Homo sapiens: one gene and its partner. The protein of the gene in region 1 interacts with the protein of each later gene in a pairwise test. Each region holds a gene or a part of one and is shown in the gene's direction. Other genes may lie near its edges.

What was found. The genes of interacting proteins can lie anywhere in the genome.
Region 2: the proteins of ROBO2 (region 1) and BNIP3L interact in a two-hybrid assay, tested with the Homo sapiens proteins (one large-scale study listed by BioGRID and IntAct).

Annotation. Positions count from the first base shown.
Region 1 is NC_000003.12:77,043,099-77,046,598, forward strand, and holds part of ROBO2 (roundabout homolog 2 isoform 23 precursor), read left to right. Parts: intron 1-3,500. UniProt on the Homo sapiens protein: Receptor for SLIT2, and probably SLIT1, which are thought to act as molecular guidance cue in cellular migration, including axonal navigation at the ventral midline of the neural tube and projection of axons to different regions during neuronal development.
Region 2 is NC_000008.11:26,393,054-26,396,553, forward strand, and holds part of BNIP3L (BCL2/adenovirus E1B 19 kDa protein-interacting protein 3-like), read left to right. Parts: intron 1-2,176; coding exon 2,177-2,249; intron 2,250-3,500.

The DNA of each region.
Region 1 (3,500 bases):
GATGTGGAGAACACTGCCCTCTAGGCTGTTTCAGCACTTTGAGACTCAGTGTTCACATATATAGTGAAGAGGTTGGTTTGTAGGTTCTCTAAGCTTTGTTACTCTTCCAGGATTCTATGATTTCTATTTACTTATTCTTCTTAGAGGTGTGTGCTTATACTCCACATGAATTTCAAATGTACAGAAGCCTGTACCATTTCAAAGATATACTGACCATCCTTGTGCTAGACACAGATATTAATTTTATTCAGTGACAAATGATACATATATTTGCATTGATATTTGCTTGGTGGGTTATTTATATGTGCATTTTTATAGTATATGAAAAATGGTAGCGTTTTGCCACCTCATAGAAGCTATCTGCTAATATTATTTATAATTTTTCAGTATTGTGTCCCTGTAGCAATCCATAGAGAGCAAATATTAAGTTAGTTGAGAAATGTAGATAAACTTTTCTATTTGGGATGTAAATAATGGTTTTCTTATTGATGCAGATTAATCACATCTAGACTTTTCTGTATGATCATATAGGAGAATGTATGTTAAGGTTAGCCTTTGTTTTCCAGCTTTTCTTTATTTTTGAATAAGAATAGGGTTTTGCAGTCATTTATGGGAAATTAATATGAACTATGGCAACACTTTTAAATTACATCTATATGCCATATATTACATCAATCTGATAATTTTATAATACTTGTGAAAAGGTGTTTTAAAATGAGAATGTTTTTCTCATCTTTACCCTTTAACTATTCTTAAATGAAAGTGGCACACATGATATTAGGGGAGATAAATATAGTAAAGATAATGTATGTGCATAGTGCAGATGTAGAATCTCATAGAGGTTTATACATGTTGCTAAAGTGCTCTTTTTCAGTAATGGGCTTATTATCATAGCCATATGTAGTCTATTTCAGAATTTAAATTATATATAAGTAACCTGAAATGTGTTTTTGAAGCTATGCAGTAATACCATGTTTGAATTGGCTTTGTTTGAATAACCTTTGATGCTACGCAACATGTGGACCATAAAAAAAAAGGATTTCTTAGAACATTAAGCAAAAATATTGTAAAAAAAAAAAGTAATGATTATATAAAAAGAGCAGTTCTGGCCATCTCATCCCTGAGCAGCTTGTATAAAATAGCATGTTTGACGATAAAAATATAGATATGTAAGCACATTGTATAAGTTGGGATACATACATAGCAATGAAGGGAGCTGATGTATGTGGGATGTGTGTGTGCCTAGTAATATCTGCTGAAATAGTTCCGGCAGTCTACAGGAGGTACATTTACTTCCCATGTGCAATTTGGTTTTCGAAGAGTATTAGAAAAAAAGATTATCATCTTATTTACTATTTCTCCTTTTTCTCCTTTTTTTCCTCCTTCTCCTCTCCTTCTCTTTCTTCTTCTCATTCATCGTCTCTTTCCTTTTCTTATTCTCCTCCTCTTTTTTTCTTTTTTGGATCTAATGAAAGGAATTAGAGAAACACTTGAAGAGTGAAGAAGATAGGTGAGGGTGTTTCTTGAATGATAATTTAGAAAATCTGCATTTAAAGGAAAAATGTGAATAATATTTTACCTTTAGGTATATCCAACTGGGATTTTGACTTTCTCACTTTTACCCCACAATACTATATATAGCTTTATGCAAAATGTTTTGCACGGATCCTATCATTTTCCAGTTTACACAAGTAAAAGTCGTCATATCTGAGTTCAAGCAAACAGTGGAGATTTATAGAGTGCCATTTTACAGATTTATTTCTAAAGAAAAGTATTGCTGTATTTCTTAAAGGTTCTCCAGGTATAGATCTATCAACCTAAATCAATACATTGGCATAGATATTGCTTTTCTCCTTCTTCTCTTCTTTTTTTTTCCATGTGTGCCTTTATTAGCTGAGCCACTACTTGAGGGTTTAAGGTCTTTGTGAGGGGCTTGGAACACCCAATGTTGGGGGAGGGAGGCGGGCGGTAGGGAAAGTATCTGAAAGGACTTCCTGAGCCAGCTGTAGGCTTTTCTTCTTCTTGTAAAAGAATTACTATATAAAGAATGAAGGAATGATTATAAACTCTTTTTAAAAATAAATACCTATCAACTCTACTGTTTTAGTAGTGTGTTATACAATGATAGAAGCATATAGCATCTAGGGTAGCATGCTTACCCAGAATACTTGACTCAACACAGTGTTGGAGTAACGGAGGCCTCAATCCTTAGTGTTTTCTCCTCCATTTGCAGCCAATCCTTAGGCTCTTTCATCTAATCACATGAGGTTTAAATACATGTTTGGATTGATAATTCTAAAATTGCCCTAATCATTGCATGGAGGGATATAAGATCCATCAGCACAGAACTTGGCTGTTGTATATACTGTTGATCTCCAGTGCTTGCATCAGTGCTTGACATACTCACCTGACTACTTGACGTCTTTGCTTCATGTCCAATGAGAATGTACAAAACTCAAGCCTAAGACAGAATCTTCTCTTTCTAGCCATTCCCATCACAGTAAATGGCTTCCACCATTCATAGGCTTTTTCATGACCCCCAATGAGGAACCATTTTTCACTTGTTCTCACAACTTGTATTCAACTTGTTCTCAGAATTGTGCAACCATCACTACAATCTAACTTTAAAATGTTCTTAATTACCCAAGAAAGAAACTATGTAGCTTGTTCCACCATCCCTCCACCAACCACAAGAAATCACCACTCTACTTCTGCCTCTGTGGATTTGTCTTTTCTGGACATTTTATATATAAATGCAATCATACAATATATGATGTCATTTTGTGACTAGCTTCTTTTCTTTAGCGTAATGTTTTTAAGGGTCATCCGTGTCATAGCATATGCATCAGTACATCATTCTTTTTTATTGCCAAACAATATTCCTTATCATCTATCCTTTGGTTTACTAGTTGATGAACATTTAAGTTATTTCCATTTTTGGCTATTATAGATATTGCTGCTTTGAACATCCACGTACTAACTTTTGTGTGAACATATGTCTTCATTTAACCTGGGATGGAAATGCTGGGTTGTATGTTTAGTCTGTGTTTCACATTTTGAGGAACTGCAAGACTATTTTCCAAAGCAGCTGTGCTACTTTACATTGCCATTAGCAATATATGAAGTAGATATTTTCTTTTAATTGATCATGGAAAGAAAGAGTCGAAGGGCCTTATGAGTTGGGTATGATGTTTTGAAGTGAAACAATTTTATATTATACTAATCTGTCTCAAATCCCCAATAGTCCTGATTTCTAATCCCTTCAGTGGTTGTTGTCTTCTAAGTCTTCCTCAGTTGCCTCGTAAAACTTTACAAAGATAGTACCTCAGTTGAACTTGTCACTTTTAGCAGAGATCTCAGCAATAGTAAATATAAATCATAGAATGATAGCATCTCGGAGCCATTATGAATATTTGCAGCTATATTGCACAACTCTCTTATTGGTTGGGCACATGGAGAACTGAAGCTTAGAGATTTTATGTGCCTTGTCACAGATCCCA
Region 2 (3,500 bases), on another chromosome or scaffold:
TCCAGGCCCTAGATTAGTGGTCATCTTTCAGAGAATGGCTAGAACTCGAGTCTTCTGGGATAGCCTACTAACACGCTTTACCATTGAGGAGTGTCTTCAAAACTCACATCATCTGAATTGCCATGCGTCTCTATATGTGAAAAGTAATTGGAAAGTGTTTCTTGTAGGGGGAAATGTTTTAGGGTTGTTGGGTATCAGTCCTAGAGCTGATTTATGTATATTTTCAACTTAAAAATTATTCCATAGAAATATTTGTGTTGCCGCAGGGGTTGTTAGCTGGGAACCCCAGTGTGTTCTGCTTTGCCTTTCACCCTGTCACAGGGGTTTTCACCTTGACGGCACACTAGATTCACCCAGAAGCTTTTAAAAATGGCAGCACATGGACTGCATCTCAAGAACTTCTCATTTTGGTTGACAGGGGCAGGGTAGAGACGTCACAATATTTTAAAAGCTCCCCAGCCGATTCTAATATGTGCCATGGGTGAAGCTCTAATGCATTCCAAATTGTTAGGAGGAGTAAACAGTTTAGAGAAGAGGTTGGTACCAGTGTGAAGAAGCATATAGAAGCAGAGCAATGCTTCCATAGGATTCTTGACTTTGTCACCCTGACTGCCTTGACCTGGTCACGGCTATGTAAGGCTGACCCTTAACTTGATGTGTAGCTGTGAACCCAACAGTTATGAGCACAAAGATAGTAAACTGAGGCCAGTAGGAGTGCCCAGTTCGGGTTGACTCCTGTGCTAGTTCAAGACAAAAATTTCCTAAATATATATGACGTTGGTTTGATACAGAACCAGCTTTTCTGTTTTCCTGTCCCCATTTAAAAATCTCCTATGTCAATTATACTAGTCTAAAAGACTCCTAGGCCTAATCTGTCTGATAAATTTCTGACGATCTTATTTCTGAGTCAGTCTCACCAACGTCTCTATACATTAATTAACATTATATACATACTCTTGATAACTTTAATAGTTAATATCTATTCTTTTCAGCAAGTTAAGCCCCAAATATTTTTTATTTCTATTTTAGATTTTGGGGGAGGGTTTGTGTATGTAGTGAAGGATCCCCAGTGACTTTCAGTTTTTATACAAGAAATCATTAATAAAGCTAAGAAATTAACTTAGCACATTCTGTTCATCTCTTGTATCAAGTGCAGTTTGTGATCATGTTGTTTTTGTCTAAAAACTTATTTGTAAATTTTTACAGTTCTAAGAATGTATTTTGTGCAATCATAAAGGTTTTATATTAATATATAAGTTATATAATTCACTCTGAAATATCTCAAAGCAAATATTTCTGAAATAAGTAAAATAGTGGTTCTCAAAGTTTTTGGTCATTACATACCTTTACATTCTTAAAAATCATTAGGGACCCCAAAAAACTTGTTTGTGGGTTTATATATTTTGATATTTACTATATTAGAAATTAAAACTGAGAAAATATATATTCATTCAAAAATAATACATTTTAACATAAGTAGCATTTTTTAGTGAAAATACCTATTTTCTATAAACCCTCCAAGTTAATAAGAATAGTGGCATTGTTTTACACATTTACAAATCTCTAATACCAAGCTTAATAGAAGACAGCTGGTTCTCATCTGTGTTTGCATTCTAACTGTTGTGCTATCACACATCATGTAGCCTTTGGAAAATTCCACTATACACATGGGAGAATGAGAATGAAAAAGGCAAATAAATCCTACTAGTATTGAGAAAGGAACTGTAACCTCAAAGACCCTCTGAAAGCGTCTTTGAGAACTACCTTATGCACTTTGAGAACTACTGGTGAATTATTTAATGATGAGGGAACTTTGAGAAAAAGAACTCTGAAGTTCCTGAATTTGAAGATTATTTTACCTTTAGTGGACAAAAGAGTAAATATAAGAGAATGTGACAGTTTGTGTCTGTAGATAGTATTTCCTTTGCAAATTTATCATTTTGAAGGATTTCATTACTACTGAAAAAGTGCAGAACATTTTGGGAGTAAGAATGCTCAATTTCATTTAGCCTTTTAATATCACATAAATTTTTCTTGTATAGGGTTATGATATATTCTCTGATTTGCTTTTTCAAAGCCATACTGCTGTAACTTTTAATTTTCTAATTTCTAGTAGAGACTAAGTCATTTGACAAAGTGAGAATTAAAACTAATAGCTGAATTCCTTCTCTTCTAGCCCTTCGCCACAAGAAGATGGGCAGATCATGTTTGATGTGGAAATGCACACCAGCAGGGACCATAGCTCTCAGGTGTGTCGGGGGGATTCTGATTTACAGTAAACAATTAAGAAAGATGTAAATTCTCTAAGTATATTTTGCTAAAATAAATGTGAAGACTTTTAGGAATAGTTTGAAGCTATTATTGAGTTTCTGATTTTGGAATTTATTTAGGATGATATAGTTCTTGTCGCACTCCTTTACAACTAAGGATTTTGGGCCCTGTCACTCTAAACGAATTGGAAAATTCTTGTCCATAATAAATCATGCCAATACTCCAGGCTAGTTTCTTGAGTGTATAAGTAGAAAAAGACTGAGATAGATGCTTTAAGACCACAGAATAGGGAGGAGCCAAGATGGCTGAATAGGAACAGCTCCGGTCTACAGCTCCCAGCATGAGCGACGCAGAAGACGGGTGATTTCTGCATTTCCATCTGAGGTACCGGGTTCATCTCACTAGGGAGTGCCAGACAGTGGGCGCAGGCCAGTGGGTGCGCGCACCGTGCGCGAGCCGAAGCAGGGCGAGGCATTGCCTCACCTGGGAAGCGCAAGGGGTCAGGGAGTTCCCTTTCCGAGTCAAAGAAAGGGGTGACGGACGCACCTGGAAAATCGGGTCACTCCCACCCGAATATTGTGCTTTTCAGACCGGCTTAAAAAACGGCGCACCACGAGACTATATCCCACACCTGGCTCGGAGGGTCCTATGCCCACGGAATCTCGCTGATTGCTAGCACAGCAGTCTGAGATCAAACTGCAAGGCGGCAGCGAGGCTGGGGGAGGGGCGCCCGCCATTGCCCAGGCTTGCTTAGGTAAACAGAGCAGCCGGGAAGCTCGAACTGGGTGGAGCCCACCACAGCTCAAGGAGGCCTGCCTGCCTCTGTAGGCTCCACCTCTGGGGGCAGGGCACAGACAAACAAAAAGACAGCAGTAACCTCTGCAGACTTAAATGTCCCTGTCTGACAGCTTTGAAGAGAGCAGTGGTTCTCCCAGCACGCAGCTGGAGATCTGAGAACGGGCAGACTGCCTCCTCAAGTGGGTCCCTGACCCCTGACCCCCGAGCAGCCTAACTGGGAGGCACCCCCCAGCAGGGGCACACTGACACCTCACACGGCAGGGTATTCCAACAGACCTGCAGCTGAGGGTCCTGTCTGTTAGAAGGAAAACTAACAAACAGAAAGGACATCCACACCGAAAACCCATCTGTACATCACCATCATCAAAGACCAAAAGTAGATAAAACCACAAAGATGGGGAAAAAACAGAACAGAAAAACTGGAAACTCTA